Linked DNA regions of Homo sapiens. The gene in region 1 interacts genetically with each later gene. Each region holds a gene or a part of one and is shown on either strand. Other genes may lie near its edges. The genes, in order: BRAF, FGFR2 and HDAC2.

Evidence for each region.
Region 2: changes in BRAF (region 1) and FGFR2 together harm fitness more than expected from each alone (negative genetic interaction), as found in Homo sapiens cells (one large-scale study listed by BioGRID).
Region 3: changes in BRAF (region 1) and HDAC2 together harm fitness more than expected from each alone (negative genetic interaction), as found in Homo sapiens cells (one large-scale study listed by BioGRID).

What each region holds. Positions count from the first base shown.
Region 1 is NC_000007.14:140,774,789-140,778,445, forward strand, and holds part of BRAF (serine/threonine-protein kinase B-raf), read right to left. Parts: intron 3,288-3,657; coding exon 3,203-3,287; intron 2,301-3,202; coding exon 2,124-2,300; intron 1-2,123. UniProt on the Homo sapiens protein: Protein kinase involved in the transduction of mitogenic signals from the cell membrane to the nucleus. Phosphorylates MAP2K1, and thereby activates the MAP kinase signal transduction pathway. Phosphorylates PFKFB2.
Region 2 is NC_000010.11:121,500,945-121,504,601, forward strand, and holds part of FGFR2 (fibroblast growth factor receptor 2 isoform 1 precursor), read right to left. Parts: intron 2,998-3,657; coding exon 2,846-2,997; intron 4-2,845; coding exon 1-3. UniProt on the Homo sapiens protein: Tyrosine-protein kinase that acts as a cell-surface receptor for fibroblast growth factors and plays an essential role in the regulation of cell proliferation, differentiation, migration and apoptosis, and in the regulation of embryonic development.
Region 3 is NC_000006.12:113,939,992-113,943,648, forward strand, and holds part of HDAC2 (histone deacetylase 2), read right to left. Parts: intron 3,516-3,657; coding exon 3,360-3,515; intron 1,775-3,359; coding exon 1,717-1,774; intron 1,098-1,716; coding exon 1,067-1,097; 3' UTR 1-1,066. UniProt on the Homo sapiens protein: Histone deacetylase that catalyzes the deacetylation of lysine residues on the N-terminal part of the core histones (H2A, H2B, H3 and H4).

The DNA.
Region 1 (3,657 bases):
TTACAGGTGTGAGCCAACATGCCCAGCCACATTTCTCAGCTGTGATGTGAGAAGGATTTGGCATCTCTTTCTTCTGAAAGGTAAATCTATCAATAATATGCAGTTGTGTGTAATCATTTTCATTTAACAGTTATGTACTGAGTATGCCAGGTCCCATTCTAGGCATTAGGCATAAAATAATGAAAAAAAGCCCCTGCTCTCATACAGCCTGCATTCTAGTGGGGATAAAAGACAAGAAACAAGTCAGATGGAGCTATGCGTTATAAAGAAAATCAAGCCTATGGGTATAGAGAGTGACAGAGTGACGTGGGGACATGTTAGTTATATAAGGTGAGCAAGGATTTCTATTAAAAGGGGACATATGAACCGAGACACAAGGATATTTGTGGCATGTGTATCCTAAAGAGAATATAACAAACATAAAGGTCCTAAAGAAGGAACACGCTTGGCCTGCTGAAGAAATTGCAAAGAGACCAGTGGTGTGGGAAGAGAATAAGCCTTTGTTTCTCACTGAATGTTCACAATCTTTGCCATGGTTTACTCTTCACAAGATTTTAATTCTTTTTTTTTTTTTTTGAGACGGAATTTTGCTCTTGTTGCCCAGGCTGGAGTGCAATGGTGTGATCTTGGCCCACTGCAACCTCTGCCTCCCGGGTTCAAGTGATTCTTCTGCCTTAGCCTCCCAAGTAGCTGGGATTACAGGCTTGTGCCTGGCTCATTTTGTATTTTTAGTAGAGACGGGGTTTCTCCATGTTGGTCAGGCTAGTCTTGAACTCCCGACCTCAGGTGATCCGCCTGCCTCGGCCTCCCATAGTTCTGGGATTACAAGTGTGAGCCACTGTGCCTGGCCAAGATTTTAATTCTTTAAAAGCCTTTAGATTCGAACAGATTCAGAGATTCTAACTTATCTGAAACGTTGAGATTGTTTCAAGTCTAGGGGTAAGTGGGGGTGTTACTGAATAAGGTAATAATTTGCTGTAATAAGTATTTTGGCCGAATATAGGCTTGTAAACAATCTAAATTATAGATATATTGCCTAGTTTTGAGAAAGAGAAGGTGGTATAGTTGGAAGATCTAAGAGCCAGATCTGGTTTAGAGTCTTGGCTCTATACTTACTTGCTAGGAGCAATACTCAGTTAGAGTTGTAGGTGTTAGTACATATATACCCTTTTACTCTTTTATTCTAATTTTGTAATGTAAAAGTAGCATAGTGGTTATGGGGAAAGAATACTGGATTGGGAGTCAGAAATCCTGAGTTAAACACCTTTGGTGCCACTTATTAAATGTGTGCCCTTAGACAAGGAACTTAAAAGCCTCAATTTCCTTATCTGTAAAAAGAAAAAAGATCTCCTTCATAACATTATAAAGATTAAATGACATAATAATCTATGTAAGTGAAAGCAATTTGTAAAAAACAAAATTCAGATCATATCTATTTTTAAACTTCTCACAGAGCTTTCAAATTCATATTTTACTGAGTTTATAATTTTCACCTAAGTGCTTTCAAAATTTGTTTAATTTTACCTTTTAATTTACCTATTCATTTGCACTTAAGAGTTGCAAAATTTAAAATTTATCCTTCAAAGTCAGTTCCCCATATTAGCTTATGGTAAACTTTATAAAATAACTCCTTAAATTGCATAGCAAAATTCAACAGATAGGAACTCACTCTGAAATCCTCAAAAAGGGTCAGAATGCAGATTTTTCACTTTAACTTTATTAACTGACCATTTTGCAACCAAAAATACGGGCACTCAGAGAAACTGATTTGAAAAAGTAACTAACAACCATTCTGTTTACTTGCACAACTGCTAACAACTTTTTAGCAGGTTTTTGCTGTTTCTATCTTCTGAACCTCTCTTGCTTAGCTCAATCACTGAGTGCTAAGCCTAAGTTTGCAGTCATGTATTTATTATCAAATACTTGATATATGTTCTGAAGGCTGCACTAGACAGAGACATTTATTTTTTAGTATCATATTATTTACCAGCCATTAGTTAGCATCCTTATGTTCCTGGACAGTAATTTAAAATGCAATCCAAAAGAATAGCAGCCAAAACCTTTAAAACATCCTCAATGGTCTTCAAAAATAATTTACAAGACATTTAACGAATGGAACTTACTCCATGCCCTGTGCAGTCTGTCGTGCAATATCTATAAGTTTGATCATCTCAAATTTGGTCTCAATGATATGGAGATGGTGATACAAGCTGGAGCCCTCACACCACTGGGTAACAATAGCCAGTTGTGGCTTTGTGGAATAGCCCATGAAGAGTAGGATATTCACATGTCGTGTTTTCCTGTACAAAGAAATGTGACAGTAAACATTAAATGTCGACAAACTTTAGCAATTCTTACAAAAGAGAACCAAAGTAGTCTGTCGGTAAAATGTTGTCAGAAAAAGCTTTTTTTTTTTTAAAAAAGGCAACAAAAGGATACATTTAGAAGAGACTGGCAATTGCCAAGTCTAACCTCCTACTTTATGCAGAGATATCTTTTTAAATATATCTGACAGGCAACTAGAGGTTGCTTAAATACCTTCAACTATGGGAAGTTCATCACTCAGTTGTAGCTGACTCTCATATCTTTATTTAAGTGGTTCTGGTATTATAAAGTTTCCAAGTGTTGAGACAAAATCATTTTCTTACAACTTTCACCTCTGGCTTGCTTCCCTGGTCTGCTCTCTGGAATAACTTTTTTTTCCGCACTCTGGAATAACTGTGCACTCTCTTGAACATAACAGCCTTCTGTGAACTAAATATCCTCAGTTCTGTTGATTATTTTCCCCCGTTACACCTCTAGAATCTTCCCTATTTAGGTGGTCCTCACTAGGCATATCCTAGTTTGTCAATGTTTCTAAAATTCCAGAGCCCAGGACTAAATACCACCTCTAAATGTATTCTGATAAGCTTAAAACTGGAGAGTATTCTTTTCATAAGTAGAACTATTACTTTATATTATCAGAATACTATACTTCCATTAATTCAGTCTAGGACTAAGTATTCTATCAGCCATACCATATAACATTGCATACTACTTAAAAGAATGTGGTTAAAGACAAAAATATACTCAGACATACTCTGTTTCTACAAATTTATTCATTTTGAGTAAATCTGTAAAGCTAATAGTTGCTACCACTGGGAACCAGGAGCTAATAAAAATAACTTCTTTCTCTGGAAAAGAGTAATTCACACAAGCTCACCTGAGTACTCCTACTTCATTTTTGAAGGCTTGTAACTGCTGAGGTGTAGGTGCTGTCACATTCAACATTTTCACTGCCACATCACCTAAAAGGCAATTGTTACTCCAAGTGTCATTTCAATTTTTAAAATTTAAAAGTATAAAACATTCTTGGGTGTTTTCACTAATTATCATAGCCCTAACTCCATACCATTATTAAATCACAAATAAATTATACTTTAGCTATCTAAACTCCATTTGTTTTCTAAGGCTAAAAATTCAACTAACAATGATATTCCTGTACTAGTATTTCAAAATATCAATCCAAAAAATAGCCAACCTTGTTTGTTCCATGGAAATTTGGTAAAATCAATTAAGTACCCATGGTATTTTCCAAATTATTTGACAATATTAAATTATACTTACTAGGCTTAATATTTATTTACTAACTGAAACTGCAAGTAATGTTGAAACTAC
Region 2 (3,657 bases), on another chromosome or scaffold:
AGCCTAAATGTGTAAATAGGGGATTAGCACATAGCATCTGGTGATGGGGTGTAGTGAGGGAAATTCCAGAACTAAATATAAAAATCTTTCAGCGGCTTACTAAAGCATGGAGTGCTTATCATATGGAACTAATGAGACTTAGGGTACACACGCGCCTGAGTATTTTCCTAGTGACGTTTTAGAGAATGTCAATTACTGGTGGAACGGCTATTAAATTTCACATTGGTATTCTCGGTTTATTTTCTTTAGGGAAGGTATCCTTGCTAGTGCGGTGGTCAGCTTTCCTAAGTGCCAGAGAAGAGCTTTTGATCTTGAGCCAATTAAATATTTGTAATTTAGAATGGCTCAAAGAAAAAACGTTAAGACTGTTCTTATTTTTTTGTCCCTGTAAAATGGTGGCTTTAAAATTATTATTCAAATACCAATGGATTTTATGGTCACATTCCTTGCCAAGTTACAGGATATGCCTCTTAAAAGCATTTCAAGGAATCTCTAATTTTTTACTAAAAAGAAAATTCTAAAAAATTGGGGACTTTTTTTTTGACATAAGTTTAAAAGTCCTTATGACTACATAAAATTAACAATGAAGAAAATCCAAAGTGAACACCACAAATTAAATTTCTAAGATTACAAGGTCTATGCACATCGGACGAATAGCCATATATTGTCCTTGTGCATTCCAGAAACCAACAAAACGCAAAAGTCTTTGGAATACTTATGAATACGGCTCTTTCTAACTTAAGCATAACACAGCAAAGCATGGAGCTGCCATTAGTAAACAGTATTTAAGGTAAGTACACAATAGTTTGCAAAAGTGCAGCATAAAGACTAAGGGCAGCATGTGCTATGCTGAGGTCATTTTGTTTCTACCCAGAACGAAAATTAAATTTAACATCTTGGCAGAAAATAAATATTTGCATTGGAAAAATGGCTAATTTATGTCCCACCGCCTTGCTACTACAAGCATAACAATCCTTTCTTTGTATAACTTCTGCCTCCGATCTAATAAACTGCTTCTAAATAGCCTTCATTCATTGGAAATCTGTTCCACCTACGTTTGCGCTAAACACTGTTTTGAAATGTTTAGCACTCAGATTTTCCACACTCAGGGTACCCCGGGTGGGAGGTAACAGTTGGGCACATACAGACTTCCACTGTTGACTGTGGTGTCACAGGTGGCAAAAACTATGGACTAAACCCGAAAGCTGCAATTTCTTAAAATATGATCACAACTCCCCAGTTCAGTTATATATATAGGAATGTGCACATGAACCTATCTGTGTATATAATCACACACAAACTAGGGCTGGCGGAGTTCACAAGAAACATCCATTTCTCCACATCCTACAGGTAAAGAAACCATTCTTTGTGTTTTCTCTGGTGCCCCACCAGTAAATGTCCAATTAACATGCCTTGAGTGAATGAATAAGTGAATGAGTGAGTGGTCTTTTCACTACAGTATACAAATCAACTGGAAATTACTTCCATTAACACTCTAACCAAATAATATCCATACAATTATTCAGTCCTAGCTAACGGTACACATCTCTAAATTGGCACTTGGGAAACAAAACTGATGTGACATCACGTGAATCAAAATCAGAAGTGCCAGCCACATAAGCTACCTCTCCCTTCCAAATAGAGCTCATCAGATCAGTCTCTGGAAGAGCTTATCTTTGCATTTCCAAATGTGTATAGGTACACATGAGAAGTGTATATAATCTGAGGAGCTACTGAAAATGTCAAGGCAAACAGGGTAGCTGCTTATAAGCAAGTCAAGAGCTTATTCCAGTGTATGTGATGCAGAAGTAGTCAGCATTTCCACCTTCCCGTACTCTCAAGCTGTGACGACAAAAAGTACCCCAGAAGTGAGTGGACAGCCCTACAATGACCACTGCACTTCCTTTCATAAGGAGGATCTAGGGGTCGGTCCCTGCCTAGAGGACGAGGGCTAGGAGCTCAAATTCTGCCCACTGACTCCATGCCCCACACGATGATCCTGCTGAGGTTTGCAGTTCAGAGCTCCCAGGTTACCACCACGTGAAGGGAAATGAAAGGAAAACTCGCACAAGCCAAGAACTCTGCTCAGTCCTGGGAGGTCTGAACCACCACCCTCATTTTATGAGAATGAATTTCAGAGAATCAGGTGCCTCACCCGAGGTTGCCCAGCCACTGTCTGGCAAAGCCAGGATTCAAATGCAGCCCAACGGAGCTCCAGTACGTGGAGTTCAAGCGAGACCAAGAGATACGTAGCCCCAACACCACCCAGGTGGCCATATTTTGACTAAACATCTGATTGGCACACCTCTGTATCATCCAACAAGGAAAATATTATGGATCACAGAAATTAGATGTCAGGTACCATATTTGAAGCTTTTCAGCCCAATATGACATTAATAACCAATGAGAACAGCAACACTGGGTAGCGGTCCTTAAGGCCATTTATATTCTGCATCTAATTTCTCCACAGAAGTGAACAGAGAACAGTCTTGTTCTAGTAACCAAAAGCTAGAATGTCAGATCTGTTTTATAAATTGGATAATTCTACTTTTATTCCATTTGACGGAGTCTGAATTGCCCAGACACTTAAAAAATGATAACCAGATGCCATCTTCTTTGGGGACCAGCCAGGGGCAAGTAGCTCTGCTTTCAAGGAGTTATTTTTTTTTTTAAATCCATTTTTTTCTTTTCCAGGAGTTGGTTATTTAGAAATACAATCTTACTCCTGCTGACATCATCACACCAAGACCTTTGTGGCTAAGGGTCATAAAAAGAAAATGTTAATCCAATATCCCCATTTATAGCTGAGTCTCCATCCTGGGACATGGCCAAGAGAAGTACTCACTTATCTCTTGGAAACTCCCATTTTGGGTCCTCTGGAAGTTCATACTCGGAGACCCCTGCCAGCATGGGGGTGTCTGCCGTTGAAGAGAGGCGTGTTGTTATCCTCACCAGCGGGGTGTTGGAGTTCATGGAGGAGCTGGACTCAGCCGAAACCTGGATACAAAATGCAAAGACACAGATGTAATCCTGGCTCCATCTGAGAAGGCTGGAAGTCAGCCAGAGCCCAGCCAGAGTATCGAATCTTAGAAAGGAATGGGTTGGGGGCTGGCAGAAGTCAGAAACCAAATTAGAAAACCACTGGAATCTAACTCCTCTGCCCTCCAGTCCATGCAGTACCAGATTTCATCCAAATTTTATGTTCCTATGTTCAGGTTTTTCTATGAAATTTTTCTATACCATCTGATCACAATGTAAATTTTCTTTCTGTCCTAATTCCTCCAGAGAGTCACTTGAGGACATGCAGACAGTCCTCTCTGGCTTCATTAGTGCCTTTATGGTTGTACCTGCACCTGTACTGGAGCCCTGGATAATGGATCCCCTCTCAGACCACCCGGATCATGGATCAATGCTGTGCTTATGAAATTCTACGAAAACTTTTAGGAAATTGGCTCTACCATATTTCCTCTGTCTTTGGAAATGTAAAGTGGAATATCTCAAGGAAAGAGTTCTAGGACTTGAATGTGGAAGACATTCAGTAGCTCCGAGTCCCTTTAACTCAAAATAACCCCAGACCCCAGCATTGGGGGCCATTCTTTGTTTCTCCCCAGTCCTTCTGGAAACTTATTGATGGCCAGGCTATTCAGTGGAAATGGG
Region 3 (3,657 bases), on another chromosome or scaffold:
GGAGATTTCACTGATTTTGGCAAGTTCCTAAAATGTTTTGTCTTCTTTGCACATCTTAGTAGCAGGAGTTACCCCCATTTGTCTGCTTCCTGCTACTAGAATGTAAGCTCTGAGTGTAAGCTCTGAGTGAAAGCATTTTTCCATTATATTCAGTTACACTCCTACAGTCTTAAAATGGGCAGACACACAATAAGTAGTTGCTGAATGATAAATCAGTTGTGTTTATTTCCTTGAGTTAGAAACCTGGATGTCACGTAAATAATAATGGAACCTGGATGCCATGTAAATGCAGTAAAAGAAACAGGTTTTGTCTGCAGGTTCCATTTTAAACCAGCAATATACTATAGGCAAGTCTGGTCAATACAAGTTCTGGTCAGTTTCTTCTTTCAATTCAGAATTTCCATTTCAATTTTGAGAATCTTTGGGTCAACTCAAAGAACTCCTACATCTCAATTGCAGAGTCTGTATTATTTCATAAATTGTAATGGGATGTTAATCTTCACTGATACTAACTGGCTAAGCTATAGAGGGCAAGGTGGTAGAATTTCTATTGCAAAGATAAGTAATAATTACTATAAATACTCTTCCCAAAGAAACAGCAAATAGTTATCTTTCAAGCTGTAATCATTATCTTTCACCTAGAGTGTATTGTAAGTCTACAGAAATGATGTCATTAGCCACTGAAACAAGACTTCATATTGTAGTAATAAACAGACAAAAGATAATCCAAGTACAATTTTTTAATAAAGATAATTACAAAAGATGGAAAAATCAGCTCAGAAAGGCCAATTACTTCTTTAATAGATCAGTTTTTTTGACATAATAACTCACATCAATTTTAAATACTATCACATAAAGCATGGTGGAGAAAAGAAATTTTGCTTCATAATTAGAAAAACTCACAATAAAACTTGCCAAGAAAAACAAAAACGAAAAAGCCATTTGAAAATAAATACAGTCCATGCCAAAGTAGTATAAAATGAAGCCAGAAGTCTTCAAAAAGAAAACATTTTCCTTTCAATATTTTCTTTTTAATGATTTTCTGAAATTGGTGAGACTGTCAAATTCAGGGGTTGCTGAGCTGTTCTGATTTGGTTCTGTTAAAAGAGGCAATGTGAAATATTAAAAATGGCACAATCTTGGTTTAAATGCACTGACCTATTATATTGATCAGGTCCTGTAGGCTCATGCTAAGAAACACATTAATTGATAATGTCTTAAGTGTTTCTGGAGTAATTAATGCCTTAATTTTTCTAGTGATTTAATAAACTATTCCAAGTTATCCTGTAAAGGCTGGCACAAAATTATGTGTGCCCAAACATTTACATGCTTTCTGACACTAAAATCCTCAACTGTTTTTACTTAAAATTGTTTCTTAAATTTACCTATCTCACAACACTAAAAAAATCATGTACACAGAAATAAGAACACCATGAAAACCATTAAGTGCATATATAAAAGATAACAGCAAAAAAGGGTCTCAGATAAACTACGTACAAGAATACAAACTGACTGATATAGTTATACTGATAAACCAATAGGTAAGATGGCATATGTTGTCTTATGTACCAATACAAACTAAAATTCAGAGCACCTCATAATGATGTTCTAAGGTTCAGTCTAGTATTTCTGAAGTGTGTACACAAACACACACCAATAAACATGTTTAGTATTTTTATAGTATGTAAAAAGTACTTGATAAGGAACATCATTTACCCTTTGGTATCTGTTTTTTCACCACTGTTGTCCTTGGATTTATCTTCTTCCTTAACGTCTAAAAATAAAGATTGGGAAAAGATTAAAACCTATTTTGAAATATAAAATGTATATATATTATTTCAAAATATACTTTATTTTTAAAATATAAAAAGTTATGCAATCTTATTATTAATGAATTCGGTCTAAATAAGCTTTGTGTTGGGTGTTTCCTAAACGATGGCAGTACAAGCTATGAATAGTCACTGGATTGGGGTGCAGAGGGAGAAAAGGTGGCCCTAACTCTAGGTTTTGACCTATAGATTTAAAAAAAGCTTTCTGTGGTAGTATTTCATTTTTCAGTAGGCTGAAGAATTTTAACAACTGCAAGGCCCTATCGAAAGAGCCTCATCACCAAATAGAGAGTTTATTTTTTAAGCACAGAAAAGATAAAGCTTTTAAAAATGAGAACACCAAAAACAGACAGACAAGAAAACATAGTGAAAATGAAAGAAAAGAAAAAAAGTTAGGAAAATCCTACAGCTAAAGTTAAGTCGTCCTTAATTCAGTCATGGCTTGAATTTTTGGATGTCAATCAGTTACAAATATAGACTGAAGCCATCATTGTAATACATTGGGAAGTTAAAATTATAAATTTCTGTATGTAGCCTATTGAGGAGTGAATCCACAAGTAAAAGAACAGAACTAAATGTGTCAGATGTTATAGATTACTAACTCTCTAGTTTAAAAAAAAAAAAAAAAGCTGGCTTATTCACATAACTTCAATTTGATAGACATAGGAAAAATTGGATCATTATCTCTAAATCAGTTTTTCACATACTACAGGATCAAAATTAACAGGTTAACTAAAACGTGTGCTCATCACCATTACTTGCATTAGGAAATGCATCAAGTGCTGAGAATACAAATATTTAAGATACTGTGTTCCCTAGCCATGAGCAGCTCAGTCTAGTAGGGAGACAAAATCCTGTGAGGTGCTATAATATGATGTGTTAAATAAAATGGCAGAGGCATGTGTAAGTGTTCTGGGAAGTCAGATGAAAGGTAACAGATTCCGGTAGCAAATTCAATTGCCTAAAGCTAACACAGCGTTTTAAAGTAAGGCAATGTATCAAAGTATTTTTTCCTCCCTAACCCAGGTCCCAAATCCCCTCCTAGCTTTCCTCAGAGTTTTTAATGTTTTCTTCAATTTCTGAACAAAATCCATTATTTGACCTTTTTCAAAATGGCAAAACTGGTCTAAGGATATGTAACTCTTCTTTGTGTTTTCTCCCATTAAATAAGCTTTAGGTAGCTAAAAATTACCTTAGAAGTTCAGTTCTGACCATGCACTACCAATAGATTCATAATTACTTTGTCCTCTTTCTTAACCAATCTATATCACAATGCAATGTTCACTATTTTAAACCTATGTTATCAAGAAAATAAGGTTTCCTGTATTACTAAAGCAAATAGGAACAATAACATTTATATAAAAGCTTTAAGAGCTAAGTACCACTTATATGTAAGAAAAAAGAGTCACCTACCTAGCATACTTCCTCCTGATACCTGTGCAACTGACTTCTCGATAGCATAAACATTATAATGCAGCCCAATTTTTAAAATTTACAATTAAAACACAATTACCAAGAAACAAATCTGACCTGTTTTTTTGTCCTCTGTTTCTTTCTTATCTTCTTCAATTCTAGCTTTCTTTGCTCCTTTCTTATGATCAGCCACATTTCTTCGACCTCCTTCTCCTTCATCCTCAGAATCTGAGAATTCTTCATCACAAGCTATCCGCTTGTCTGATGCTCGAACTGCACAGAATATTTTAATAAATTTTGACAAAAACAGTCACAGGTTTTATAATCATTACAGCATACTCATACAAATGCACTAAGCAGTTAGTTACCACATTTAAACGTAAAGGGTAACATGCCTAATGATTTTAAAATTTGA